2 linked regions of the Homo sapiens genome follow. The protein of the gene in region 2 interacts with the protein of the main gene of each other region in a pairwise test. Each region holds a gene or a part of one and is shown on either strand. Other genes may lie near its edges. The genes, in order: A2M and PRDM1.

What was found.
Region 1: the proteins of PRDM1 (region 2) and A2M interact in binary tests that used the Homo sapiens proteins (3 or more experiments, as listed by UniProt).

The regions. Positions count from the first base shown.
Region 1 is NC_000012.12:9,102,601-9,118,163, forward strand, and holds the start of A2M (alpha-2-macroglobulin isoform a precursor), read right to left. Parts: upstream 13,320-15,563; 5' UTR 13,250-13,319; coding exon 13,164-13,249; intron 10,944-13,163; coding exon 10,760-10,943; intron 10,090-10,759; exon of another isoform or gene 9,937-10,089; coding exon 9,777-9,936; intron 9,612-9,776; coding exon 9,559-9,611; intron 7,735-9,558; coding exon 7,714-7,734; intron 7,436-7,713; coding exon 7,267-7,435; intron 6,806-7,266; coding exon 6,721-6,805; intron 5,045-6,720; coding exon 4,924-5,044; intron 4,006-4,923; coding exon 3,891-4,005; intron 3,746-3,890; coding exon 3,636-3,745; intron 1,801-3,635; coding exon 1,639-1,800; intron 1-1,638. UniProt on the Homo sapiens protein: Is able to inhibit all four classes of proteinases by a unique 'trapping' mechanism. This protein has a peptide stretch, called the 'bait region' which contains specific cleavage sites for different proteinases.
Region 2 is NC_000006.12:106,085,927-106,101,489, reverse strand, and holds the start of PRDM1 (PR domain zinc finger protein 1), read right to left. Parts: upstream 15,155-15,563; 5' UTR 14,937-15,154; coding exon 14,895-14,936; intron 13,737-14,894; exon of another isoform or gene 13,644-13,736; coding exon of another isoform or gene 13,560-13,643; intron 13,290-13,559; coding exon 13,041-13,289; intron 5,876-13,040; coding exon 5,756-5,875; intron 3,402-5,755; exon of another isoform or gene 3,277-3,401; intron 2,550-3,276; exon of another isoform or gene 2,405-2,549; coding exon of another isoform or gene 2,396-2,404; intron 2,191-2,395; coding exon 1,938-2,190; intron 1-1,937. UniProt on the Homo sapiens protein: Transcription factor that mediates a transcriptional program in various innate and adaptive immune tissue-resident lymphocyte T cell types such as tissue-resident memory T (Trm), natural killer (trNK) and natural killer T (NKT) cells and negatively regulates gene expression of proteins that promote the egress of tissue-resident T-cell populations from non-lymphoid organs.

The sequences.
Region 1 (15,563 bases), on a different chromosome or scaffold from region 2:
CTGTAGAAGTTATTCCTTAGCTCCTTTCAGGCTTCCTCTACCTTCATCCCCAGCTCCCAATAGCACTAGTGAATCCTTGAGCAAAACATTTTGTTCATATCTTAATGTATATTTTGGTGACAACACATATATGATCACCCCAAACAGGGAACAGGTAGAAATAATAATTTCATTGTCAAGACTAGCACAGTGCTGGCACGTGGAAAGCATTCAAGACACTTTTTGAAATGAGTAAACATTCAAATTAGAGGGAGGTGCTTTTATGCCATCTATTAAAGCTAAATAAATAAAATGTATTATTTATTTCTCTATAACAAGGTAAAACTCTAAAGAGGCAGGCGTTTTCCATTACCATGATTATGTAATATATATTAAATATGTATTGTATATCCATGTATCTATAGACATGTCTACATCTCTCTTGATGAATAGAGGACTGCATGCTATACCGAATAACTTATATTGGTATGAACAGGTCATCTGGAGAAAATTAGAATAGCAAGACAAAATAAAGTAAGGTAATAATTTTTGGAGTATATATATTTAAAACTAAATGCTAATTATGTTAGAATTGGCTTTTATAGTAAAAGTATCTAACAGTTAAAGGGGGCTTACTAAGTGATTCAACATGTATGATTTCACTTAATCTTCACAACCACCCCAAGAGTCAGGTGTTAGTATTGCAATCATTTTACAGATAAGGAAATGAAGCACAGAGGTTTTAGTTAATTCCTTAAAATAGGGTTGAGCCAGTATTTTTAACCACTTTATCTGATTCAGATTCTGGAATTCACACTTTTCAAAAAAGTTATTATAAACACACACACACACACAACATAAAATTACCATCTTCATTATTCTTTAGTGTACAGTTTGGTAGTATTAAGTATATCTGTTGTGCAACAGATCTCCAGAACTTTTCATCTTGTAAAACTAAACCTGAATACCAATAAGAGGAATTCCCCATTTCTCTCTTTCCCTAGCCCTTGGCAACCACCATCCTGTTTTCTGTTTCTATGACTTTGACTACTTTAGAAACCCCATGTACGTGAATCATACAGTATTGGTCTTTTTGTGACTAGCTTATTTCACTTACCATAACGTCCTCAAGGATCATTCATGCTGTAGCATGTGACAGGATTTTCTTCCCTTCTCAGGCTGCATAATATTCTGTTGTATTTATATACCACATTTTGTTTACCTGTTCATCCCTTGATGGACATTTGGGTAGCCTCGATCTCTCAGCTATTGTGAATAGTGCGGCTATGAACACGGGTGTGCAAATAGCTCTTTGAGACCCCGTTTTCGATTCTTTTGAATATATGTCCAGAAGTAGGATTACTGGATCATTTGGTAATTCTATTTTTTAATTTTTTCAGGAACTACTATACTGTTTTTCATAGTGGCTCCGCCATTTTACGTTCCCAGCAACACTGCTAAAGTCTAACCCGCACTTTTAATCACAATATACTGCCTTCTTTTCATAAACTTTAAAAAAGTTAACCTTCAATCGGTTTCTAATTGCTAGTTTTTTTCTCTCCATAGAACTAGACACAGTTTGGAAATTTTCTCACCCTTAGGTTGCAACCTTGTTTCCAAGGCTACTTCATGTCATTGGTAATTTCTTTCCAAACTTACCCTAACAGTAAGAGAGGTACCCATAACATTGGTGGTGTTGATAGAGAACTGTACAAGGCCATGCTCATCCGTGGTAGCATTGGAGTAATAGTTTGCTTCATTTCCTCTGATGAATATGACTTTATTTGGTATAGGGACGCCTTTCCCATCTACTAGGCGCACCTGAAGATTAAAAGCTGTGGATTAGTTATATTGGTAATAACTAATAGGCACCAAACATATTCATTTATCACATTTTTTAGTGCCTCCTCTATGTTGAACATGGTTCCAGGCACTGAGGACACAGCAGTGAAAAAAAACGAAGTTTCTTCCATCACAGAGCTTACTGTCTAGTGAAAGAGATAGATGCTAAATAAATATATACATAACATACACTAATTTAGTAGTAATCAATCCTAAGAAGAAAAACAGAGCAGTGTGAAGGGATAGAGAGTGATAGGGATAATAACAAGAGTGACCTGAAAAATGTCTTCTAGATATTTTGGAAGTGCTGTGTATTATTATATATAACTCTTAGAGAGTCACAGAGCACTAGAGTAATATGATAATGAAATATTTTAATCTATTAATCTATTAACTAAATTTATTTGTGCCCCAAACACCTATTTTGGAGTGGACCATTAACTTCCTATAGATTAGTGTCTGAAGTCTCATAAGTGCACAAGTAAACAATTGCCAATACATTGTCCTGTGTGTTTCTCCAGTTGCCTTAGACATGGTCTCTGCTTCTCAACCTAGATCTTCAGCCTTTTGGAAGGTAGGCAGATTTTATGACACACTTCCCATGTGAAAAATATAAAATTGAAAAGAGGCACACAGTATTAAATAAGTTGCCAAATCTAATTTACTGCTAATATTGTATTGGCAGTTGAGTAGTCCAGTTCAGATTGTAAAGGTGGCAATTCTTTTTCAGTATAAGCTACAGTTGGTAGCAGGAAGAACAATAGGCTGACCCCCATCAGTACTCATAATTGATTTACAAAATCTAAGTTTGCCAGTGAAATGTTGGCTGCATGTACAAAGACAAGAATAGGCACATAATTCTGATTTTCTTCTAGCTAGAGAGTCTTATGACAAATAGGATATTTAACAGCAATAAAATGTACTTACAAAGTACACTATCTTTCTGAGAAATTTACAAATGAGCTACACTTTCATTTTAGGAAGTTGAATACATTTTGGTGTCATGACATAACCAAGCCTTCTAGAATGTACTCCACTTTGTTGAGTCTATGCCTCTTTTACACCCTTCATAGCTGAAATCCTGTAACATTTACATTAAGAAAATGATACACAGTAAATACACATTGAGGCACATGTAACTGTGATCTCAGACTTCTAGAGTCATAAAGATCCATTTGCACATCTGCTGACAACAGAAAAATTGTAAGAGAAGATTTTTTTGGTAGATAACATGAAAATTCATAATTCAAAAATCTGAGAACCTTAAATAGCAGTGTTTTACCCCATGTTCACTGTTTTAGAAATATACTTGTTATAGAAAAATAGTGTAAATATACTATCCATGAAATAAACATTATTGTAGAATCTTTAATACTTCAAAATAAAAATTAAAACCACCTACCCACCTGTTTCCATACAAAGTTAGTGTTAGCATCGTAATGAAACTGGTCAGCATGAATTTTGAGATTCTTGTGAGAAAATGTCATAAAAACCTGAGACTGCCTGGTAAACCATGAGAAGGAGATTGAGTGACTTGTACAATGCTGTTTCAAAAGAAGGGGGGAAAACTCTACTAATTTTAATAAGGCCTTAGGATAATTACATACATTTCATACACAAATTTACAGAAGAATAAATCTATTTTTATGTAGTTTTATACCTTTGGTTATACTAATCAAGCCTTGGTGATATTTTATACTTTTGGTTATATTAAATGATAACATTAACCAGGCATGGTTTTAGCACAAACCATAACTATTGTGCTAATTAGGTAACAGTACATGGGTTGATGAGTGAACTGGAAAATACTCCACCTGCCCAAAGAAGGGAATTCCCTGTCGAAAGTGTGAGTCCACTTTCACAAATGAGAGTTTGGTTATGGTTCTTGTGATTTCACTGGACTGCCTTCCAGTCAATTCCACCACTGAAAAAAGAGAAAAAAATCTGTTATTTTTGGGAAGAATGATGTCTCTAAAATTCTATCACCTCCCCCCAACTTACAATTCATTATTTGGCTAAGAAAATCAATGCCTGTTGTGTTTTCTCTTATACCCATGTAGTACACAAACCTGTTCCTTCTTCTTGGATCTGGGCCTCAGTGTGAAGTTTCATTTCATACTCCTTCCTCTTCAGCTGGAAGACCTTGGTTTTTACTTGCTGATAGAAGCAGCCATGGCTGTTTAGCTAAGAAGGGAGAAAATAAAATACAAAAATATAATGCATATTATACTAAATAGATCAGTGGTCAGATAACCGGTGTGATTTTTGTGGGGGGACAACATCATGTAGGCATTTTCTATGACGAGGACACAATAAATATTCTCTAGCAACTAAATATTAAATTTCACAACAATATCTCATGTATAATTGACAGATGTATTCCTTGGTATCTGAAATTCCCTAGATATATTGCGATAGAAATGTCTTAAAATTTGAGGAGTAATTTTTTTTGTACAAAGGATGCATAATATTTATACATATTTATGGGGTACACGAGATATTTTGTTACATGCAGAGAATGTGTAATGATCACATCGCGGGATTTAGGGTGCCTACCAACTCAAGTATGTATCATTTCTATGTGTTGGAAATAGTTCAAGTCCTGTCCACTTGCTATTTTGAAATACACAGTACATCTGCTCTTGACCATTAGAACTCCTCATCAAAGTCTGGTTCCTCCTCCATAATATTCAGCTGTGGCTGGGAAGCGGCCTTCTATATGGGGACTGTGTTTGTCAACTCTCTGGCATCTTGGTGGGGCCATGTGATAGGTTCTTGTTCACAGAGAGAGCAGAACTGATGGCCTGGCCAGCTAAGGCAATTAAGAGGTGTATGGTTTTTTCCTTCCTTTGTAGAAGTGAATGCCCATGGAGGCTTTAGATGGCTCAGTGTCTATCGTTCTGAAACACTCACAATGGGCAATTACGAGAAATAAATAATTCCCATTGTGCTAAGTTCATGATTTTTTTTGAAAAATTACAATAGCCAACATGGAATTCTCTTCTAGATTGTTCTCTTCCTGCGTCAGAAAAATGCTGCAACTCACTGCTTTTCAACAATGCCTTTATCGCTATTCTCTAGAAAAAATAGTGTTCAACCTACCTGTCCACTGAATTTCTCACAGAAAGCCTGTGAATCTTCACCGTGGCAGTCGGAAGCGTCACTATACTTTCTGCAAATGCTCACAGTCACATGTCCAGGGACAGGCTTCCCATATGTGTATCTGTCATGAGAACATTCCCAAAGGAATCAGAGCAGACACTGAACCTCCCCATTTTCTAGCTATTTATATCTCCCCTTTAGCTACAGTATATTCCCTGTCTGTACTTCCCTCTGCTCTCTGCTGGGCTCACACAATATTGAAGACAAGAGTCACTAATGGCTCTTATAGAAATCTCCATTGCAACATGCTGAAATTTACATTCTTCTTTTATCATTTCTTTTTTTTCCTCGTTTTTTTTTAGTTTTATCTTAAAAAAGTCTTTCTTATTATAAAACTTAAACCCGTTCTTAAAAGAGAAACAATACCAGCAAGACGAAACAAACAAAACAAAACAGAACAAAAAAAACCCAAACGCCCTCAAGTCTACCTAGGAATACAAACTATTAGTACGATAGTGTCTCTTCTTCCATCATCCTCTCCCCATGTGCAGCCATCTCTATATCGAGTTTCACTTGTTTATTTTATTTTATTTTATTTTATTTTATTTTATTTTATTTTTGAGATGGAGTCTCGCTCTGTCGCCCAGGCTGGAGTGCAGTGGTGCGATCTTGGCTCACTGCAACCTCCACCTCCTGGGTTCATGCCATTCTCCTGCCTCAGCTTCCCAAGTAGCTGGGACTACAGGCGCTGGCCACCATGCCTGGCTAATTTTTTGTATTTTTTAGTAGAGACGGGGTTTCACCATGTTAGCCAGGATGGTCTTGATCTCCTGACCTCGTGATCTGCCCACCTCAGCCTCCCAAAGTGCTGGGATTACAGGCGTGAGCCACCACGCCGGGCCTGTTTACTTTTTTACAAAAGTGGGATTGTGTCGTAAATATGTCATAGACAATTGCTGGGTTTCCAAGTGCATTTGTCTCCTTTCCTATTTGAGAATGTCCTCTGTATGTCTATTTGCAAGATCACACCAGTTATGAGGAACCAGGAACTTGGCCATCACTGTGAGACAGAACTGGAGCAGGGGCCTAGCTGAATAGTAGGTGTATTACATGTGTGATCTTTGGACAGGACTATACCTGCTCTTCCTGCTACTGCTACTGTGTGCCACCATGGATGGGAACATAAGATCCAGGAAACAAGACTTTTCAAGGTTGGAACAGACTGTCTTGAGAAATCACGTTCAGTCTCTTCGTAAAAATGTCAGTGCAGACAGGTATGTAGACCCGCCTTAGGTGGACTAGTGAGTTAGATGAGATTTCAGTTGTATGCCTATCTCTACAAATTCTGAATCTAAGTGATTTTTCCAGTAAGCATGCAAGGTCAGGTAAATGATCTGTTGATGATTGAATTTCCCCTATAGCCATGTGTTAATTATCTCCCTAATATACGTTTGGTTATTTTTGGTTAAGGCAGAACCAATACCCTTCAACACTATCCACCCTTCCCATTTTGTGTGTGTGTGTGTGTGCAGTTTTGTCACTTTCAGAATCAATCCTATTAGCATAACCTCTCTAGAAACAGTTTCTTACCTCATGATAGAATAATACTGATAAGAACGTGAAAGAAAATAAAAATAGAAAAGCAACAGGAGAATAACATTCTACAGATGAGGATGCTGTCAAAGCACTTAAAATTTTTGTGTTGCCACTGCTCCCGGAGAGAGTAGTTAAAATATCCCAAATGGTGAGTCTCTTTTAAATAATCCCCCACAAAAGATTTTTAAAAAATGAACTCACAGGCCACACACTGATACATTCATCTCTTCTTCCAAGATGGTGATTATCTTTGGCACTGTTACTTGTACTTCAAACTTGGGAAGAACTGTTGATTGGTGATAAAGAAGGTTGGTGATTGGTTTTCAACTTTGGGGGAATTCCTATTTTCAGGTTCCCTGTAACAGTTCCCTAATAATATTTTAGGGCTCTGAAAAGGTAGCTCTGCTCTCCAATCTATTCTTATCTATCCTCCTCTCAAATGAAGATTTCAGTTGAGGGACTATGAGAGATCACTGTGTGCTTAATTAATTATGGAAAACTCCATTAAAACAAGAATGTTTTAATTTTGGGGGTTGGTATTAAATATTGCTACAGAAAATAACGAAGCTATGTGAAGTCCTATTCACAGATCACTGATGTCCTCATTGGACTTAGGTGTAATTAATTCTACTCCAAGCCCAATGTCACCCATGGGAAATGGAAAGACTCCAAATGAACTTAAATTCCAGGACCTAAGAGTTTAAATATGAAGAAAAATAATGCTTGATGACTTTTCATGATCCATACCAAATTCCTCCACGGTGAAAGGGTGCTCTGTCCTTCCACCTGATTTCTTCTGTACCACCACCTTGTAGGAGCCCTGGAAGGGCTCTGATGAGAGGGGAAAAGAAAATTGCTTGAGGCCACCCTCTAACTGGAAACTCTGCCATTGTGCGATGCGATTTCCTTTGGGATCCTATATGAGTAAATTAATTATAACTTACAAAAGCACCTGGAGCATTGGAGCTAATAAAAGATATCTATGGAAACCCTAAGTTATCTACAAAAAGGTCAAATGGGGTAGTAGTAAAGGGTGAGTAGAGGAGATGAGTTATAGCCATCTAGCTCTATGGGAGTTTGAAGGCTTCTCCTTTAATGACAAGTTTCTGAGATATTGTAAAAACCTCTGAAATAAGAACATTTTCCCTATATGTATTGCTTTCCTTTTAATATGGAATGTTTCATGTTGCTTACCTGAATGTATACTAGTGGAATCTGAAAGACAAAAGAAAAAAGAAGTTTATAATTATTTTCAAATATTCTTAAATCTCATTTATAAGCAAAGCAGCTAGTATTTGCTAGCATAACAGGGTGAGTATAGTAAAAAATAATTTAATTGTACATTTAAAAATAACTAAAAGTATAATTGGATTTGTTCGTAACACAAAGAATAAATGTTTGAGGGGATGGGTACTCCATTTATTGATACAGGCATGCAATGCATGATAATAATCATTATCCATGATTGGATAATGATATGGATAATGATAATGATTATCATCCATAATCATTATCATGCACTGCATGCCTGTATCAAAATATCTCATGTAACCCATAAATATATATACCTGCTATGTTTCCACAAAAATTAAAAACAATAAAAAGTTTAAAAAATCTAAATTAGTTTCATATAGAATAATTCCCTCTATAGTGAAATACAGAAATATTCCAGATTAAATTTTATAGAACTTTTCATTAATCTATTTTAAGCAATTAATAAATAATGTTAAGAACTTACTAGGCCTTCAGCAACAAATATACATGTAAAGTGCCATTTACTAAAAATGGATTAACATGTCTTAAGTGCTTATAGCATCCTAGTGAAGATCAATCCTTTGCTATGCAATTTTACAGGTTGAGAAATAAACACTTATGTAACTATAAGTAAATATGTTCAGATGTAATCATTAAGATGGGTCATAGAATTCTTACGTAGTTCTAAGAATGAGGAGGAATGGACATATTTCATTAATAAATTTAGTTTAATAAATATTACTTTTAAAAATGAATAAACATTGATAAGAAGCTACTATGAATGTTTATTCATTTTTAAAAACTAATCTTTATTAAGTACCTTCTCATGCGCTGTGTATCATTCTAGGTATTGAGAATATAACCACGCACAAAAGAACAATAAACCATGTTTTAATGGAGCTTATGTTATAATAGAAATAGGCAGATTTTTAAAAATCAATACGTATAGAATGGTGGTAAGTGCAAATAGAAAAACAAAGCCAAGTTAGGCTGACAGAGTGATGGGTGTGGTGCCTCATTTTAGACAGAGGAGTGAAAGTAGAAGCTGGGAGACCACTTTGAAGGTTATTGTAATGATCTTATTTAGAGATGACATTGACTAGGACTAGCTTGCAGCAGTAGTTCAGATGATAAGAAATAGTCTGAATATATTTTAAGCCAACATGATTTTCCAGTGAAGTGGATGTGGGTATGAGAGAAAGAGAAACAAGAACTAGGCCATAATCTTTTGTCTTTGGAGCTAGAAGAGAAGAGTTGCCTCTTTTTGAGATAAGAAAATGTGAAGAAGTTAATTTGGGAGAGAAAAATGAAGACTTTGGGTTGATGTCTGCATTACAATAGAAAGAACTGTTTCTTATCACAGATACCAAGAGTTAGTCTTGAGGAACAAATTAATTACCCTGACTTTCCTTTATAGTGAAGATTTTGGTAGATGTGTATAGAAAAAATCTAAATCTTTAAAATGTTTTTTGAGCTTAGGTTCTTTGAGGATTTTTCTGTGTCTGCTATTGAATGTATCTTTCTAATTGTCCTAATTAAGAACCATCCGAAAAGTAAATTTAATTGTGTGACAACTGACTGAGTACCAGCACCAAGACAGAAAGAATTACCTACTTTCTTTACCTGGAATGATGTTTTAGATTAGGATCTTGTGCTGTTGTAATGCCAGAAGTTACTGTTAATGATACCAGATTCTTCCTCTCCCTGGTCTTCCCTCAGCACAAAAAACAGGTTCCCAGCCTGTTTATACAGACAATCATTTTATGTAGATAATAGAAAACTCACCAACTCATTCAGGGGGTGAAAGTTTTCATCCATGGAGACAACACGAAATTTCACTGAAACAGAAATATTTTTCATGAGCCCCCAAACCCAAAGTAGGCCTGTAGGCTGGTAAGACAAGCTATTAAGGAACCAAGATTATAGGAACTTTGCCTGGGGAACATCCAGGGGAAGAAGATCTTTCCTTTTTGAAGTTGTCCTGTCTGTAGGCTTCTTCATACCTGTCTGCCCTGGTTTGTAGATTGATTTGTCTGTCTGGACAAAGACCAGACTGTCCTCGTTCTTAACCATCACTGTGGTCCGCTTCTTAAATTCTTGGGTTGGTCCTTTCACTTGGACAGTGAGGAACATTACCTCCTCATTGGATGAAGACTTTGGGACCTGAAATACAGGACCGATCCTGAAACCCCATTCAGCACCCGCAGGTCTCCTCCCCTATTTGCTGTTGCACTCTTCCCTGGAGATCTTGCCCTTCTTACTTAACTTCACTCCCTTGTTCTCAGCAGGGAAAGTTGGCATGGACAGGAATCACTTCTGCCATTTTACAAATGGGGAGACAGGACACAAGGTGGAGGAAAATAAATCAGTAAGAGAGGTTGTAAGTGAGATTCACACCTTCATACAGCTCACAGAAACAGTCTTGATTCAATTATACGCTGAGCTTTACCAGGCTGATATTACATGCTAAAAGGGCATGGTCGAAGCATGTTTTACAGGCTATGGAAAAAAACCCCGTATTTTACTGACACTAGGCTGTAAGCATCTCACATGTGGACAACTCTGAAGAGATATTACACCTTTGCTCAGGGTAATTTCTACAATTTTTACTCTTAGAAGTAGTGTGGAGTGATGTGTTCCTGTCAGTCCACCACGGGTGGCTCATGTTGAGCCTTGGTCTAGTTTGCTTTATTAATATTTTTTCCATCTTAATTTTAAGAAGTCACATTTTCTTTTTTTTTTTTTCCTTTCTGGCTAATAGGGTTTCTATGTGATTATTAAGCTGACTTTTAGTTTGCCTGTAAATATTTGTCTCCCATGGCTGGAGAGTCATGCATTGCTCCTTAATTTCTATACTTAGTTTGCTACATTTGGATTCCTTCCTGCAGTTCTTACCAACCTCCCAAAGCCTCATCTGACAGAATACTAGATCCCTATGACCCTGACTAAAAGAACCAAGTATATTAAGTCAAACAGCCACACTCACAGCGAAGGCGACACAGTGGAGTACGTCATTCTCCGCCTCCAGGTCAGTGAAGAGGCTCCTGTTTCCCCTGACAGACTCCAAGGAAGCACTTACAGTCACTGTCTCATTCAGGTAGCTCAGAAGGACACAGCCCTTCTCAGTGGTCTCAGTGTGGAGCAGGGAGGGGACCAGAACCATATACTGCCTGGGAATGAGACGGTTCAGTTAGAGGAAAGTGAAGGAAGAGAGGCATTGCTATCAACAGCACTTTTTTCCATCATCATAATTATCATCATCAGTTCTACACCAAGAGAAGATGTACTGATGAGCATGAAATTTGGCCGTTGAAGGCCATGCATAAGAATTATTTCCCTTTTCCCTCACATGCCATGGCAGTGAACATTTTACTTGAGGTAGGTCTTAAACAGATTAAAACTTGTAGGCATGCTTCACTTTAAGGAACAATTTGTGAACATCTGAATTCAAATAAAAATATGTAGTTACATTTGTTCATGTTGTAAAATCTATTTTTACCTTCAAGTTGCTGTAAAAAGTAAGCAAGCTCTCAGTCATGCGGACATTACAAAAACTAATCAAATTATAGAATTTTCATTAAAATATATATACACACATACATACATACACACATTCAGCAGCCCTGTGAAAATTGTATGGTAAGCACTCGCTTCCACTCCACAGATATGGAATCTGAGCCTCAAAGAAAGTGAGCCATTACTTCACAGTCTCAGTTGTGGTAAGCAGCTAATAAGGTCTTAAGAGTGTTACCTAACCATGGATGTTTGCATTTTAAATATTTGCCTTTCAGCTCATGATTAGACAATGGCTCCATCCAAAAATGGTCCTCTGGTGATTGACTTTAGACCTTGGTAACTCATGTGCAGTACAGAAACTTTCTCAGTACCCTGACATGTAATTTAAGATCAACCCTGTAGTTTTTATACATTTTTGCTCACAGAACTCCTAAAATAATTTTTGGACTCTGTGCACTCCTTACATATTTTCAAGTAAACATATTTTTATCATGATTTTAAGTAATAGCAAAAGATATTATTTTTGATGATATTTTAAATTAATACTTAGATTACTTTTACAATTTTCTCATGAATAATAAACACTGTAGTATAAGATACCTACTATCACTATTTAAAAGTACATTAAAAAATTCTTTTAATGGTCTGATATTTAATATCTTTCTCTTCTTTTTTCCTTTTTGAATTTGAATTTCCATGCCAATTACCATACAGAAATTTATCCTAAATTTTTATATTTCAAAAAATGTTGTGAATTATTCTTACTTCTTTATTGTCAAGCATCTATACATATACGTATGTATACTTATGTTCACATATATACATATATGAATACATATACATAAATACATATATATGTAACATATGTGGGTAGGTAAATTTAACTTTAACTCCTCTTTTAAATAGAATGTAACCATAAATTTATAAATATTAAACATTTCCTTCTGACTGAGCTATGTTCAAAAATACTTGTATATAACTGATCAAAACAAAATAAATACAAAGTATGATTCATACATATTAGATATAAAATTAAAATACTTTTGAAGCACATCTTTAATGAGAATGATGAGCTGTTTTTTCCCCCAGTGAATTTATGCATCCATGGATTGCAAGAATTAAACAACATTAATTCTGTTACTATTTTTGTTTTGTGTAGCTATAAGTGCTAAGAAGAATGGCTCACATAAAAGTAAATAAATGGCAGGTAAAACAATTGCATCATTGTTACCACTTCTTGCAACTTCTGCATTACATGCCAAAAATCACCTAGTACTCTATTATCAAGAATCCCTTCTCATCACTCATCAGCTGGTATTTCCTTCAGTTCCTCCTTCAGTTGTGTTGAAACAAAGAATTCATCACCACCTCATCTGCAAAAGGATTTCTCTTCTGACATTAGAGTCCCTTGCTTTTTCAATATCAACACCAGTATTTCAAATTGTTCCTTTATTTGGCACTCTATAGATTTTTATACTCCAGGGCATTGTTCCATGTTTGGTTGTGGGAGAGAATTGTCTTTATTTTTATAAAATAGAAAATGGACCCTTGAGAAAGAGGAAATAAGAAAAGATAAATAGCATGGTCTCAAGTAGATCAATATGAATGTGAATATCTAAAATTTATTCTTTTAAAAAGCTAAAAATTTCTGACACCCCTTAGGAAGGCTTTGCATATTAGAGCTTCAGAGAGTTGGGGAAGAATGATTAAAAGTAAGCAAGTAATGAGTAAACTAGATTTGTAAAATCTGGAAGGAATCTTAGAGATAAGAAGATGACAGTATCATAGGAAAGAAAAAGGAATGATATAAAGAAAAATCTGCAATAAATGAAGGACTCTAGGTTCATGCTTCACGCTCTCTGTGTGGAACTCACGGTTTTCCAGAGACTGAGGCGTCTGTGGGCAGGAGGACCAAGAGGAGAAGAACCAGACTTGGATGAAGGAGTTTGTTCTTCCCCATGTTGCAGAAAGAAGGAGCTGGAGGAGAACAGACTGTATTGTACCCTACTCCCTACAATCCATCTGGTCCCAAACACTTCCCAAAGCAACTGGGCTTTATGCTGCTCTGTGTGCAAACAGGAAGTTCCACCCACACAAGATCTCTAAACAAAGTTGAGGTCTCTGAACATTCTCTGGAAAGGTCATTGATGGCCTATTTATAGTCAAGGTTAATTCCTGGCGGGCTAAATAGAATCCCTGGAGGGCTAAAACTACATTCCCATTCCCGTAAGAGCTCACTTTTACCGTACAGCAGCTAATAAGCTTTTCAACCTCTTCTCTCCCTCACTCCCCCACAACTCCTCACAACGCCTTTTATGGTGCTTCTCACATCTCTTGTATGAATAGCTGGCAAGGAAAACTACAATTTAAGCAACACTGGGCAGGCTCAAAATAGATATTTCACTACAAGTCAGTGTGGCTGCAAGTTCTCCATTAGATATGCCTAACCTAAATGTTTGAAGCCACATCAGAATTCAGTAGTCCTCTTTGAAAATGGCACGAATTAAACCAGTAGCTTTTTGACATTAGGGATATTACTGGGTTGCAGATGAAGAGCCAGGCCCTGGAAGAATGATCATAGAAAAGAGTTTCCTGTTTTAAGAAAGTGAAACAAAGAAACGTGAAGTAACAGGACTTCAAAAACAAATTTTGACCTATTGTGCCTAACAAACTTCCCAATTGCCTTTACCATCGACTACACAGACTTCCTTACTGCCTTCCAAATATGATACTCCTCTGCAAACTTTAAGTCATATAAATGATTTCATTAATCCATCCATCCACCCATGCATTTATTCATCCATCTATTCATGTAGCTATTCAGTTGCTTTGTAAGTATTTTTTGATCCTACTAGGGCTAGACATCATGCAAGATTCTAGAGATAGGGTGGTCAAATAAGTATGAAAACAGGCACTTAAAGATTTTACATTCTTGTTGGGGCAAAAACAGACAGAAAAACAACTACTGTATAAAATACAATATAACACCTACTGTATAAAATACAGTATAAAATACAATATAAAACTACTGTATAAAATACAGTAGCCAAACATATTATTGCAGAAGTTCAGGATGCTCTGGGAGCACATAAGAGAGCACATAACCCAGACCTGGAACCTTTTAAAAAAATTTTGAGGGAAAGCAAAATGTAAATTAAGCTCTGAAGTATGAGTAGTGGTTGTCTCGAAGAACAAAGAGATGAAAAGAGCTTTCTAAGCATAACGAATGACAGATGCAAAGGAGGGAGAAGAATCACGGCACATGCATGAAATGAAAACTATTTGGTATGGAGGAAATATTCCTTTCTGATACTTCAAATCAGAAAGGAATTTGTCAACAATATTAAGGTATTCAGAGGAGTACTCAGTGGATTGACTTCAGGTTTGTTTCCTGGAAAGCTTGCTCTTATTGAAATTTGAAAGGGCAGCTAGAAAGAGGTGATCCAGGATGCAGGAAGACCAGATGGGAGCTGGTGTAATAATATAGGTGAAAGCTGATGGCATTTTGAACTATGGAATTTGTGGTGGTATTGAAAAGAGCTTGCAGATTTATATCATATTTAAGAGGTAATTATAGTGCTCAGTGAATATATCAATGTGAGGAATAAAGGAAAATGTGTCTTTCCATTTTCCTGGCTCGTCACGGAGTGAATTGTGTTGCCTTTAGCTGGGTGAGTGAAACAGAAGAAACACAGATTGGTGGGAGCAGAAGGAGGACAGAAGGGCTGAGGGTTGGGAAGATGGAGTAAGTGCTTGTGGGATATTCACGTATTAATATTCACAGGAGTTTGACATTTGAATCTTGAGCTTACAGCAGTGTGGTCTACTAGAAATAGAATGTGATCGCCCTGTGTAATTTTAAATTTTAAATTTTCTAGTAACCACATAAAGAGAAACATTAAATTAATTTTAATAGTGTATTTTATTTAATCCAATATATCCAAAATATGATCATTTCAACATTTAGCCAATATAAAATTGTTAATGATATCTTAAAGACTTTTTTTTCATAATTTGTTTTCACAAGCTGGTGTGAATTTTATACTTACAACATAGATCAATTTAGGCTAGCCATACTTCAAGTGGCCAATATTAGACATAATATAGGTAATATTTTTCAGATTATGGTGTTAGCATCTAAGTGGGTTGTAACATCATGCCCTGTGAGTCATGACCAGGATTTTAAAAAATGAAAGAGAATATAATAAAAAATACAGTGTATCAGACAGAATAAGTGAGAATAGTGATTTGGGAAACATCTGTTTCATATACAT
Region 2 (15,563 bases):
ACATACTGCATAAATAAAAAGGGATAAATAAAAGGTGTCATTTCACAGTATATATGACAGTTGCTTCTGAACACAAAGTAGAAGCACTTGAACCTTAAAATACTGTGCAAAACCTTTCTTTGAGGAATAAAAACGCCAGGCCTTTAAACCCTTCCCTTGATTGGCACAGGGTGCGGGAAGCATGCAAAAAAGTTTCTTGGTGGTTGGTGCAAAGTCACTGGGGTAGGTCACCTCAAATGAACTGTTTAAAGAAAAGCAAAAATCAAAAGACTTTCCTCTGAATCCATGAATGATTAAACTCAAGGAATGTAAGGAGACCCTTAAGTGGAAGTGGCTCACTATGTTAAGAAAGCCAGGAGGGAGCTGTGCGCTTCTTCTGAGACGCACAGCTGGAATACGAGTTCCACAAAAATGCCACTGTGCCTGTGCATTTGTCGTTTGTTACTAGGTCCTCAGCACTGGGCATGGCATACACAGATGCCACAACAGCCGAATGGTTCCTGGGAGGCTCAGCCCTAGGGATATGACAGAGTCTCCAGAGTCTCGGGGAGCGCTGAAGAGACATGAGGGAAAAGAACTGCCACCTTTTTGGTCAGGACCTAATTAGACCCATTAAGCTGGAACTGGGGAACTGAGAGCCAGTTCTTTTCCTGAAGCTCAAGGGTAACCTGTTGTGTAAGGACCCCAAACACACGACCTCCCCTACGGGGGAGGTCCTGATGCTTTTATAGCCCCAGATTTTCAGAAAAACTGCAAACACAATCTTGCAATCTTAAGGGAGATCAAGTAAAATGAAGTGTGGAATGAATACCAAATAACCATACAGTTGGATTATATATGACTAGGGTAAGTACTTGGCTTGTTCATTGGTCCTAAAATCAAAGTCAAAATTCCAATTTATGTTAACATTGATATTTATTCCAAATGTCTCAAAGGTGAAAATGAGAACTAAAACAAGTTAGCCTTCTGGTAAAGCAAATGGATATACTTATCAATAACTGGTAAACCTGGGTAAAGGGTAAGTGGAAATTCTTTGTCCTTTTCTTCAAATGTTTTCTTAAGTTTGAAATGATATCAAAACCAAAAGTTACAAAAACTTCAGCATTTAGTCTTAACTTCTAAACCAAAAGGAATAATTTTTAAAACTGCTAATAAGATTTAGTGGTCTAACCAAGAACACACAACCATAGTTACAGCAGAGGTTAGAATCTTATGGCAATTCTTAAATTGCTCAAAGAGATCACTTGAGAATGACCAAAATGATGCAGCCCTCTGCAGAGAGAGGTCATGACAGCAATTTTAATCAAATAAAAGAAGTAAAAGCACATAAACCTAAGGAATTGAGAATTTGTTAAGATAAAGTGATAGGTGGCTACTATAATACTGATCAAGAGATCAGATAGTTTTTTTACTGTAAGGAAGGAAGCTAAGATGTAAAATCTTTACGGTTATTCACTTAGAATAATATTGAAAAATTATGACAAAGTTTTTCTAGCAATGATCTTACAATGTTCCACATCAGATCCTAACTGTACACTCAAATGTACATCTATAAATATTTTGATGCAGTCTAAGCCCTGCCAAAGTACCACAGATGAGGGCTATACCTTGCATACGCAGCATGTCTGGACCAATCCCTGTAATTCTCCCAACTGCTTTTGGATAAATTAGAATTGGACATATATTTCTTCCTGTAACATCCTGAATTCAAAACTCAAGGTAGCTCCTCATATATATATATACTTTTAAATGATCAAGTTTCCTAATAGTTAATAGGGACTCAAAAAATGTTTTTCCTCTTCCTAGTCCCTAGCTTAAGCCACCTACTTCATCCAACACATGACAAAGCCGTATAATTAAACAACATGTTATTAGTTCAAAGGGGCAGAACCGACATTACTGGCATTTTTTATTTTTTTGTTCTGTAATCCACTTACTGAGATTCATCATTGTCAGCTCTCCGGGATAAGGGTAGTGAAGCCTTTCTGCAAAGTCCCGACAATACCACACAAGAAGTTCCTGGTTGGCAGGGATGGGCTTAATGGTGTAGAAGTAGATGTTCATCCCGTTCTGACACGCAGCCAGGTTTTGCTCCCGGGGAGAGTGTGCTGGATTCACATAGCGCATCCAGTTGCTTTTCTCTTCATTAAAGCCGTCAATGAAGTGGTGAAGCTCCCCTCTGGAATAGATCTGTCCAAAAGAGAAGACAGGCATGTAAAAGGAAGTCAGACCCAAAGCTCCCCAGCACCTCTCAGAATAAACACAGCCGGTACCGTGTGTGATTTCTGATCCCCTACTGCCTAGTTAGAAAAAGAATCCAATCAGTTTAGCCAGAATAGTCTTGAATCAGCAGAAATCAGGGCGGAAACAGGTAAGGCACACTTTTGTCAGTTACCTTTTCCATTTCAGTTTTATCGTCTTTTCATGTTCGGGAAAATAACAGAAAAATGAAACACAAATGTTCATTTAAGGAGCTGCCTCAAACCGATTAACCCACCACAGAGTACTACTTTTGCTACTGCAGTGAATGGCAAATGGGCGATGCTACTGACTTCAGTTCCGATTATGCTGACTTTTAGTGCTTTGAGTCACTGGGTAGAAGACCAAGCCGGCTGACGACGTCAAACTGAGTCTTAGCTTTTTCTATGGCCTCTGTACTCGCCGTTTCCTACACCCCCGCCCAAGGCTTCAACTATGCAAACATCCTCCACCCCCAACCCTCCAAGTCCTAAAGTAACACTTGTTCATATGAATACTTGGAACCTTGCCTTTTTGTGGAAACACTGGGTGGGGCAAAGGTGAACTTCACCTGCCATAACAAAGCGAACACTCGGGCAGCAGCCCGAATTTGACAGTCTATTACTGAGAAGTCACTTTTCCTCTTGATAAACATGTCCAGACTTGCACTTTCCTTTCAATGCAAAGGAGGGAAGGGAACCCCTTATCTGGGAGGAGGCTGGCTAAAACACCACACACAGAGCCATAGGCGTGTGTTTTTGGAAAAAGAACAGGAAGAAAGTATGTTGTTCCTTAAAGGCAACGCAGAATGAAGAATTTGAAGTTTGTCCTAGAGTAATACTACTTCTGGATAACAGATGCACTCAGGCTACTTGGCAAAGAGGCAGAGGAAGAAGAAAAATTAAAACGTACACTCTTACTGAAACTATAAACACACTCCTTATCCTTCCACACAAAGTTTTCTCTCTTCCCCTCTTTTTAGGAGGTACCACCTTTACTTTAGACTTTAAGAAATTTCCTTATACAATCAGTCAATACCTAGTGTGATCTGCGACTTGCAGTCTCCAAGCAGCAGTAAGGCACTGTTCGTAGCAGGAATTTTGTGCTCACCGGACAGCAGGTTATTGCTTTTCCTTACTCACGTACCGACTATGCTAGTCTACAGATAGTTTCTGTATTTCGCTCAAACGTTATCAGAAATAAAAAGGAACTCTGTCCCTTTAACACAGGCGGTAAACACCAGAATCACTTTCTTTTAAGAGTAACTTCCTGTAAATTGTGAAGGGGGAAATACATGTGGCTTCATCAAAGCAGCTTGTGAGAGCTTTTGCGGTGTGTTTTGTTAAGAGAAAATGGAACAAGGCTGGGTGAATTCTGCTATCAAGAGGGGTTTTCAAGTTTGTTTACTCTGATGTGCAAACTTCCAGGAACATGGGGTTCCATCGCTCTTGTACTCTTCGCTGGTGCGGAAACTGCTTTCTAAAGCTACGGGTATGTTGATTCCAGTTAGCCTTCCTCGGACTGCAATTTACTGTATCCTCATTTAAAAACAGCAATGTCGGTGCCATGAAGTCACTCACACAGAATAAAATAACGCATATGTAAAATGAACACCGTTTCCTACCACCTTCCTGCACTTCCATATATTATCTAGAAGATTAAAATGCGCTGATTCATAGTACAGTTACAAGAAATGTCACTGGTTTCTCAACTTGAACATCCCTTCTTTGGCAGTGTAATTTGCATGAAACTTTTTCTTTCCTCACAACAGATGTTCATATTCCTGCCAGCAAAAACGAGATGTTCTACAATATCCTTTGCATGTGAAAGACTGATTCAAATAAATCCTCCCAAGGAAAGCCTTTCAGTTACTTACAGTGAATCTTTAAATGAAACAGGGAACTGGACAGTGAGGGGGAGATTCTTAGGTACTTCTTGCCTTTTCTCAAAATAATCACACATTAATGAGACTTATGCTGGATTGTCTTAATTCAGACCTTTAACTCCAAGAACTATGCACCTTTGTGGCTCACTTCTGAGAAGACGTTATTGACAATAAAGGCAAAAATGCACTCATGGTTCCACCATTGTAAGTCAGGTGATTAATATATTTTAAGGAGGAATAATTATTAAATAAAAATTGTGAGCACATGATTCTTAGTGAATCTGTAACTACCCTCTTTTGCTTGGGAAATAGTAAGATAAATTTCTAAAAATGAAAAACTTCCTGGATTAAAAATATTGTTTCTTAGGAATAGCTTCTTGTCCGAACGATATAATCGTTCTAGGCAAAAATACCAGCTAAAGCAAGCATAACACAATTTTTGTTATCATGCAGCTGTTTCTTTTTAAAGAATTCAAATAATGTACATTTCATGTAAGTATGCACAAAAAAACGCTTACTAAATTCTTTATCTTCTGAGGAAACTAAATATCCCTGAGACATCTATGGGAAGAAGGAAAGCAATCTGACTTTTTTCTGTTCACTGCTAATCCAGTGTTTTATTCAAGGATTCCATCTAATTGGTTCACCTCTGGGGGCCTTTCTAACCCTAATATAGCAAAGGAAATTGTACTGGCTAGATCTTTTGGTTGGATGCTATAGGAAAGCTTATCATCTTGCATATGACTGTTAAGCATTTTCCTTATGCTATGAGATAATTAACCTATTGTCAAATGGAATCATTTTACCATGCACATGTATTTAAATAGGACTAGTTCTGTGGTCCTCCATTCCCCTCAACCCATCTTCCAGCTATCCTTCCTTAATGGCATTTACTTATAAGGTAATTCATTTGTCATTCCTGGCTGGGCGCGGTGGCTCTTGCCTGTAATTCCAGCACTTTGGGAGGCCAAGGTGGGCGGATCACGAGGTCCAGAGATCGAGACCATCATGGCCAACATAGTGGAACCCCGTCTCTACTAAAAATACAAAAATTAACTGGGCATGGTGGCGCGCACCTTAGTCCCAGCTACTCGGGAGGCTGAGGCAGGACAATTGCTTGAACCTGGGAGGCGGAGGTTGCAGTGAGCCGAGATCATGCCATTGCACTCCAGCCTGGTGACAGAGTGAGACTCCATCTCAAAAAAAAAAAAACCAAAAAGATAATTCATTTGTGATAACTCTTCCATTCAATTAAAGTTAAGTCAGCAAGAAATCAAAAAGGGGTGAAATCTAAGGCTTGGTAACTCATTACTACTTCCTTGCGGAGAAATGCAAATGAACCTATCCTTAAAGCAAGCAACAAACTGTTTCCTTTCATTACAAAGCTCTAATGAATTGCAAAAATCAAGATTCACATATAGCCCGTATCTCCATCACTAACCACCTACAGGCCAGACATTTCATCGGTTTCATCACATTTGTTCAGAATTCCCTGTGTCCATGGGGATGCTGGATACTTATGGGTGAGCCCCAGCATTTCTCAGCACAGGATGAGAAAGGTGAGCCACCCAGCTCTTTTAGCTCCATTTTTTCCTAACATTTAATGGGTCTGAAGAAATTTCCCTTACTTACCCTCCAAAAATATTTCCTGTTGGCGTTCTTAGGAACTGTGTCATTGGTGTAGATTTCACCTATTAGGGGTCCAAAACGTGTGCCCTTTGGTATGTATTCTTTACTCATCACTCCAATAACCTAAACAGGAAAAAACACAGGAAACAATTACTTTGACTATAAAATGTTAACCAATCTTTTCAATTAAATAAATTGGACTGTCAAGTAGTAATACAACTAACAATGATAAAATTTTGATAAGTAAACAGACATTAATGATGCCTACATAATTAACAAGCTTCACCATAGGGGGAGACCATCTTTTAAAGTCTGAGATCATAAGCAAATACTCAACCAAGCATTAAAACAGTCTAGGGGATTATTGTCTGGTAATACGGGATCTTTTATTTTTATCATTACTTTTTATGCTAGAACAGCGAATATAACCATTCTCTTTTAGAATGAGAATAAGACACTGCAGAATTAGATGGTCAAGATTAGACCATTTCAGCCTGTTCCTAGTTTCCTATTTCTCATTCTCCCTCAAACCATAAGCATAGTGTGCTTGAGGGGAATAAAATAGTTCTGACCTCAGAAACCAAAATAATGTTCTTTGGTTGTTCCATAACAGCCTAAGGAACCAGAAACCAAATGCATTATGTTTTTTTCATTCCAGATGAGGTTTGTGTGTGTGTGTGTGTTTTTTTTTTTTCATAGCTTGTACATTCTCTTTAATAAGAGATCTTTCAAGTAACTTTGTTCTTCTCTGGCCTTCTACTTTGTTCTTCTCGAGTCTTCTACTCAAGAGTGGTCAAAGGCCCTCGTGTGTGTGTGTGTGTGTGTGTGTGTTTTAAAGACAAGGTCTCCCACTATCACTCAGGCTGGAATGCAGTGGCTTGATCTTAGCTCATTGCAGCCTTGACCTCCTGGGATCAAGAGATCCTCCCACCTCAGCCTCCTGAGTAGCTGGGACTACAGGCATGCACCATCACGCCCAGCTAATTTTTGTTGTTATTGTTGAGAAGGGGTCTCACCATGTTGCCCAGCCTTGTCTCAAACTCCTGGACTCAAGCGATCCTCCCACCTCGGCCTCCCAAAGTGCTGAGATTACAGGCTGAGCCACCATGCCTGGCCAAAAGCCCTCCTTTGAAATTAAGTTTATACGGAGGAAAGCTGTAGGTTCTAAGATCTGAGGAAATGACCTCAGACTGGATGCATCACACATTTTAACTTTGTGGGGCCTTGCTAAAGAAACATGTTAACTATACCAGTTCCTCCTTAATAATAAATTTCTCTTTGAAGGGGTAAAAAAATCACCAACCGTGAATCAGGAAGCAATTCGTCACTATTCAATAGAACTCCTCTGTGAGTAGTCCTTTACAACAGTTTGCAGTTACAGTTTTGTTTTGGTTTTTATTCTCTCACTTTCCTAGTTTTATTTTCTTCTCATTCAAGATAGCCTACCTATCACTTTACTGAATTCTTTACTAAAATGGACCAAGGAGGAGGGAGTGGTAATAGATGATAATGTTTATTTTCCAGTTTTTATATTCCCAGTAGCTCCTGTACATTCATGTACCTGAAATGGTAGACTCAAATATGTGAATCGATCCATGCACAGATTGTTCACAGTGGAATCTACAATTTTGGTTACAATATACACCAGTTCCTCATTAAGTCTCATCAATAATTTAAACCTCTATTTAAATAGATATGGCACACCTACATGCCTGTGACAGACTAGCTTTTCTCATTTAAGTGTCTTATCAGCCAATGATTTTTTTTTCTAAAACAATTTAGTATTCAATATACAAATCAATGAAGCATACTCAGACTGGAAAGAGAAAAAAAGAAAATTTTCCTACACCTAACATAAGTTGAAACAAGAGTGTTATTTTTGGTCCTTTAAGAATTTCTGTCAGAGAGCTGAAAAAAGCAGATGTTCATTTCATCCTCCTCCTCTGCCTTCATTTACATCTATCTGCCCTTTTAATCACCGTTTGTCATTATTGGTATTTGTTGGCAGTAAAACTACTGGGGACAAGAGTATCTCAGAGCAGTCTTGAGATATAAATATATATATTTAAAGCTTTAGTAGACTTATTCAGAGGCTCATTGTTTTGGACATATTATTATTGAATCTAATTAATTTGGAAAATTAATGGAATTGAATTCTATGACATGCAAATCATTTAACATTCATATTTCAGTGATTATTCCATAATATTAGAATGACAAACAGGAAAAACAAATCATGCCATTTGTTGGTGAGCCAATAATTAGCAGTTGATATTTTCAACATATCTACTTTACAACAGTAATTTTAAGAAAGGCACTCAACTGGTTCATCAACTTTGTTTTAAATTATAGTCTCTTACAGATGGTGTCTTGGGAGTCAGAGCTTGATTACCAAAACGGAGCACTGCACTGAGGTCGTGGTTCTTCTTCCAAATTGCCATTCTTTTACAGAATGGGCCTCTAGGTTTTCAGTTATCCATCTTACACACATTTTCTTGTGCCCAAAAAGAAGTCAACTAGAAAGCATAAGCTACCCAATACCTATTTGAGCACAACTATAGACTCATCACTAGTAAGCTATAAAGCAGCACCGGAAGTAGCTCTTGCCATCTCTAACCTTACAAATTCAATTCAACAGGCAAGACAGGAGAACAATTAAAAAGAGAAGGCTCTGTGGTAGAAGAGAGGTCTATGATAATCCTCAAACCCCAGACAAATTAAAGAGCTTCAATATTAGCTTATCATTAGGAAAGGGACAGAGCGCCCTAATATTTTAAATTTCAATTACATACAGTGCTATAGGGCACATATAAACTCACACCTATAGATAAAGATACAAAATCATAAAATTTCAAAACTGGAAGGCACTTACAAACCACCTATATCCATTCTAAGTCTAGCGTTCTAATATACAGTAAACATCTTCATCTCAAATGCACGTCTGAGACACAGACGCCATAAAAGCTGAAACTCTAAGACTATGGTGCTTGTCCAGGTAACTTTGGAGGGGGAACAGGAACCAGGATTGTTTTTAAAGGGAAGTGAAAAAACCAAGTACTAAGTCTCCCTCTGGTCCTAGAAAGATCCAGAATGTGCATCTTAGACTACCCATCTCCCTGACCCATAGTTTGTAACAGTTTATCTTTGAACCAAGCAAATACTAAGGAGGAACTTGGTGTGTAGCTTAAACTTCACAGTGCTAAAAAGACAAAGAATGTGTTCACCTAACTCAAGAAGGAAACTTCACTGGAACTGACCAGGGTCCTAAAGAATTACTGCTGGGGACAGGCCGCTCTGTGCCTTCTATAAACTCAACAGCAAGAGGACACCCGGCTTCAATACCTCCTTGCTTCACCTGCTCCCACAGAAGCTCTTTATGTGCGGTGCAGACCCCTCCACCACTTGAGCAGATTTGTTTCTGTCTGTGGCCTCAGTTACAGAACACACCCCGCCGTCCACAGTTTCCACAGCTTCCGGACAAAACACAGGGCTTCTTTTCAATTTTACACAATGAAGGAGATTTGACAGCTTAGGATGGGTTGAGTTGGAGCGCTTAATGGAAGGCTGATAACAAGGACAATATAGGTTTGTTTTTTTTTTTTTTTTTCAAATTCCTTCTTTAGAGAGTATGCAAACAGACACACACAGCGTGGGTTTGAAGCAGAAACTATATCCAAGTCTAAATGTCATCTGATCATCCTCTCCCCAAATTACATTAAGATCATTTAAATTACTAGCTATCTGTTTTCCCTCCCCGAATCCCACTCTATAAGAATGACTCGTTAGATTATAATTCTGTTTTGACCATATGAATATTTGTCTTGAGAGAACTAGAACTCAGTAGTGACCAAGACCTTCAGCCTGCAATCACCTCATTTTTATTTTATTTTATTTATTTAGAAACAGGGTTTTGCTCTTGTTGCCTGGGCTGGAGTGCAATGGCATTTATTTACTTATTTATTTTGAAACAGAGTTTCACTCTCGTTGCCTGGGCTGGAGTGCAATGGCACGATCTCGGCTCACTCCACCTCCCAGGTTCAAGCGATTCTCCTACCTCAGCCTCTCAGGTAGCTGGGATTACAGGCGCCCACCACCACGCCCGGCTAATTTTTGTATTTTTAGTAGAGATGGGGTTTCACCATGTTGGCTAGGCTGGTCTTGAACTCCTGACCTCAGGTGATCTGCTGTCCTCAGCCTCCCAAAGTGCTGGGATTACAGGCGTGAGCCACCGCGCCCGGCAATCACCCCATTTTTAAAAGGAGTGAAGTGAACAAAGTTGTTTGGAGAAGGTTTCCTTCTTCATTATCTTTCTATTAAAGGAGACATGGTGATGCCTTGGTACATCATTTCTCAAATAAAAGGCAACATGAAGAGAGAATTGCATGTTATGGTGAGATACTTTTTACAGATGGCTTGAGTTAATAATGGATTTCGATCAGAATGGACACCAAAGGAGTCCTCACAATCTGTCTGATGTTTATCAGCCACGATACAGGGAGGTGAGACTCACAGAGCCACAGTGCCTCTTGAGTGCAAGCAGTCTCAACCGACGGCAGAAACTCTACAGGGTAACGCTTCTAAAATATAAATGCTTGAACTGATTTTTCTGTAGTCAAGTAGTCATAAGAGATTATTTCAGGAGGACAAGGGGAAAACCCCCATAAAAGAATAACCCATCAGTTTAAAACATTTTCAAAGTTTTGAATAGTAGGTCTATATTTGATTTCAGTTCTGGAAATAGGAAGTAAGAACAGTTTTTCATTAAAGGTGCAGAATGATTCTAAACCCAATCTAAAAATGAGGGTCAAGATCAGAAATATGATTTGTATGTTTTGTTTTAACCAAAAAAAAAAAAAAGGTGCTGACACATGGTACAAATTCATAATGAAAAATGGTCTTGTAAAAAAAAAATTCCCCGGTATGTCAGCACAATAGTACATATTGTAACATCTTTTGCTATTTAAACGAAAACATTTAAAGAAGGGCAAGATTAATAAGTCAGATAAAAAGTACATGTAGAAAGACTCTTCCTATTTCAATGGCTCATGGAACTTAAAGAACTAACTGAATAAAGATAATGTAAACATTTCATCAATCCTTAATGTTGCTGTCCCGGAACTAGTTTGCAGCTATCCTACCCTTAATGGCTCAACTCCACCATCCTCTTTCACCTTCTAAAGGAAGCTGTCCTTTCCCAAAGTTCAAAAACAAAGGAGAGAAACAGAAAAACAGGTACAAATTCCAGAGTAAGCTTAAGACAGTATTACATTCAAGTTTACTCCTTGCTTGACTTTATGATTAGGGTTTAAAGACATACTATCCTCTATTCAAGCGCTTCAGTTAAATGCAAGATAGGGAAATAGGATAAGAGAACCCTCACCTCTTAGGTTAGTTTCGAAGGACCTTCTTCAGGAACACAGGCATTGTCTGTTTTTTGGTTGCTTAATATATTGAAATAGGAAGTTATACATTCAGAGGGAAAAAAACACAAAATAGCTTAAGGATTGGTCTGAAATATATTAAGATGATAACTAAAACCACAGTGACACCAAGAGGGGCCAGTGTAGCATAATCGAGAAGCACTCATTGGAGAAGTCAGAAAAGCTTTGCTTCAAGTCCCCGGTCTGGCTTTACCTATATGCCTTTGGGTAAGTGACTGTCTTTCTGAACCTTGAACTAAATGATCTAAGAGCATTACTTGACTTAGCTATGATTTTAAAGGAGAATGACGGAAATTGAAAAACTTAAGCTAAGAGCTGAACTGACGATAAGAACATTATAGAATTAAAAGGCAAAGATGACCCACAGAATGGAGATTTTTACTTCAGTCCCAAAGGACTGGACAGGGCAACACAGCACAAACGAAGCTTGGGAACAGACGAATATTTGGTCAAACTTGATATGGGGAAAAAACACACTACACTTTTTAAAGCCATAGTCAAACCTCATATACCCAAACAAATCCTACATTCATTCCAAGGGCCACATATTGAGAGACTTTCTATAAGAAGAGCATTACTTTCAGGAAGAGGTATAATTAAGGCTGACCTCTGGGGTTAAATTTTTTGGTAACATTCAACTACAACTAGAATTTAAATTTTATTTTTTATAAAATCTGCCTCCATTCACGCAGCAGTGGGGGAAAAAAGAAAGACTGAGCATCGTTGTTCTATTTAATTTTAGACAGCTGTGTCTCCCCCTCACCAAAAACACTGGACTCAGACACACAAACAGGAAAGAGACAAAGCATTTCCTAGTCTCCCGGATTCCTTCAAATACTGTTCCTTAGGGAAGGGGGAAAGTGATTTGACACGGCTGTAAGGAATAGTCCCAGTAGCAAATTCTGGATTTCTACGGCCAACCATCCCCTTTCCCTACTTTCTGAAGGAAGTAATAGAATTGACAGTGCTCTGTGCTAATGGTGGTATGGGAAGTCTGCTGAGGGGTCCTTTCATTCAACTCAACCCAGTAGTAGACTAGTAAGTGCAACTACAGTAAGCCAAATTCTGAAAACAAGAGGTGGTTCTGCAAGTTATTTCACAGCTAAACATCACGCCTAGCTATAATCTTTATATTAAAGGTAAACACAAATCAGTTGCTCATTCCAAGTTTGGGTTTTCATCCCCTTTGAAACAACAAAGAGTGTACCCACTTCAGAGGCCAGTAAGGAATTGGCCTGCCAGCCCAGCCCCAGCAAAGGAGCTGCTGCAGATAAACAGTGGTTAGCTCTGAAGTCATCCAGACAGAGGACACTTTTACATGACCCCCTTTCTCGGCTTATACCATCACTTCACTTCATAAACACGTCAAAGTTTTGAGGATAGTTTTAGAAACCCAGCTAATAAAGCTGGCTTGTTAAAAAGAGTAAAGCCAACTAATTACCAAAGACAGACAAAAGAAATATTAAAACTTTTTTTTCCAAGAAAAAGTTTTCTCCCTTAAGAGATATTGTACAACAGGGACACTAGGGCCAGTGGGCCCAGAGCTTTCTTGAAGTTCACTGACAATTTCACCCACCCTATGCTGCAAGTTGCTTTTCTAAGACATGCCAATTTGCCAAAATATTTAACTGTTTACTAATTAGTGAGGAACAGTTGAAGGCTGGAAGAAATGAGAAGGAAATGGTTTAGGGAAAGAGAAAGCAATGCAAGAATTGAATAGAGCAATCAATTATTTACTGATACTTACAGATTCTCAGAGGTTTTCAGAGATATACAAGGCCTCAAGGGCAAGTAGGGAGATTTGGCACCAGGTCCCCAATCTTCTTGTCAATAAACCAGAGGCTTACCTCTTCACTGTTGGTGGCATACTTGAAAAGCAGATTCCTTGGTAAGGATGCCTCCGCCTGAACCGAAGTACCGCCATCAGCACCAGAATCCCAGGGGTGGTCGTTCACAATGTATGTACACTTCTCTTCAAACTCAGCCTCTGTCCACAGAGTCATATCCGCATCCTCCATGTCCATTTTCATGGTCCCCTTGGTCCCCTCTGCCAATCCCTGAAACCTCACAGTGCTGGAGTTACACTTGGGGGCAGCCTGGAAGAGAAAGGAAAGGCCTTTAATCCCCATTGTCCCGCCGTTCCTGTGGCTCCTTCTGAGAGGCTATGACTAATACAGTAGTCTGAAGACTTTAAAAGCAGATGCAGAGTGCTTGGTACAGTTGAGAAAGAGCCAAGAAGCCGTATAAAGTAAACTGCCTTGAAAAGAAGCAAGGTTTTTAAATGCTACTCTTAGTTAAAAAAAAAAAAAAAAAAAAGAATGTGGCAACCTCACTGTGGGGAAAAGGAAAAAAAAAAAAAGAATCACCTCTGAACAATCCCTGGCTTTACCTCTCATGGCAGAAAAATGTTCTGGGCACACAGTCCAGTGTCCCAGAATGCCTGGGGTCATGGCCGCCAGACCCTCGGCACTGTGGAAAAGCTGCCTCAGAAAAGTGTCACAAACAAGGAGAGGAAGAGGAAGGAGCTCTGTCTGCCTCTGAATGAAGCTAAAAATGGAAAGCGCGTGTGGTGCAGGAGCGGAACCCAGCCTGCCTTTTCCAAATGGGGAAGACCGAACTTTCCCACCAGCTCCCAACGCAAAACAACTTTCAAAACAACTGCCTCCTCCCTCTGCTGCGAGCTCTCTTTCATCCTCTCACATGGAAGACTGAAAAGGGTTGCATCCTGCCAGCATCACTGAGCTACGGCCTCTTAGAAATCACTTGGACCACAGGAAAAGAGGAGGAAAAATGGGTGAAGGGGAAAACAGCCTGCAGTGTCTTCTGACTTGCAAGCATCTCATACCAAATTGAAAAGGCAAAAACAAAACATAAAACCGTTTAATAAAATTCCCTGGAGAGAATTCCTTTAGGAGTCCTCAGCTACAAATAGCACTTTCCATTTAAATCTGAAAGTGTATGAATTCCCAGAAGTCACTGATGTACTACAGTTTACTGTAACTAAAGTTATAACAAATTTAGAAGACTTGGAGGACAAGCTCTGCTTCCACTTGTACATTGATGAGGATATTCCCCCAAAATCCTCCCTCACACTCAGAAAAAAACTGTTTTCCAAAGGCAAAAAAAGGTAAACAACTTCTGTAAGGGTTTTCTCATATAGACATGTTTGATAAAAATGAGGAATATGGGTATCATTTCCATGTAAGAATGTGTGTTTGTTCAAATGTAAACATAACATTCTGTGGAAGTCCTTCAAGGAGGTTTTTACATTCTTCCACTTCTCTAAATAGGATGCTCTTAAAAAAAAAAAAGTTGGATGCAAAGTTGTTTTTCCCTCAGTTATGATTTAAGCAAACCTGCTTATTTTTATTTAGTTCCAACATGTAGAGTCATGACGCCAAACACATGTTAAAAATAAAATAAAATAGAAAACTTCAGCCAACCCGGAATAGTTTGACGAGTGTGAGCTGGAACCACTACTGAAATTTCAATGAATTGGCAATTATGTCTAGAACTGAAAGGGTTAATGATTCATAAGGAAAGTCTCACAAATGTTTGACAGCACTAAGTGCACTAAAGCAGAAGCATGTTTCTACTGCGACATTAGCCAAAAAAAATTAATAATAATAACAATAAAGGAAAAGAAAATAAAGTTTTCAGATCAATTTCAGAATTAAAAAAAAAAAATTCAAGTTCCTTACCAAGGTCGTACCCACACGTTTTTCCAAGCAAATATCCAACATCTGAGAAAAGTCTCGTTCATCTCTACCCAGTCCACATTCTCCCCGCGTCCCCCGCCAGGCTGAGCCGCACAGACGCGCACCTCGGCGGTCCCTCCTCGCTTCGTCCGGCCGCCCGGGCGCCCGCGTCCCAGCTCCGGGCGGACAGGTGCCGCGGTCGCTGCTCTTGCCTCTCCGCAACACTGGAGGGCCGAGTGTCACGGCAGCACTTTGTCTGTGTTAACCGTCTGGCTTCCCCTCCCTGCTTAAGATTTCCTTAGCCACTCGGCTGCGCGAAGTGGGGGCGTGGCCAACGTGGCCAACACCACCTGGCCGAGCCCAGGGCTTTCCCCCAGATTGCTAGCACAGCCGCCGAGAGCTTCCTCTCTTCGCATGTGTATTTCAACATTGACTTGGAATCTTCTTACTTCCCTTTGAAGGCACTTAACCTCAACGCTTACTTGGGCTCTATTGTATTCTAAACACTCCAGATCGCCCTCCTTCCTGGCGCGGCAGAATTAGGGGGCGCACGTTCCTTAAATTAAGGAAACTTAAAATTTACCTACACAGTTTCTGATTTCTCAGCTCAAATCCCCAGGTACAAAAGACACAAATCTTACTTCAAAAGAGCAAGTTAAATTGTTTTTGCAG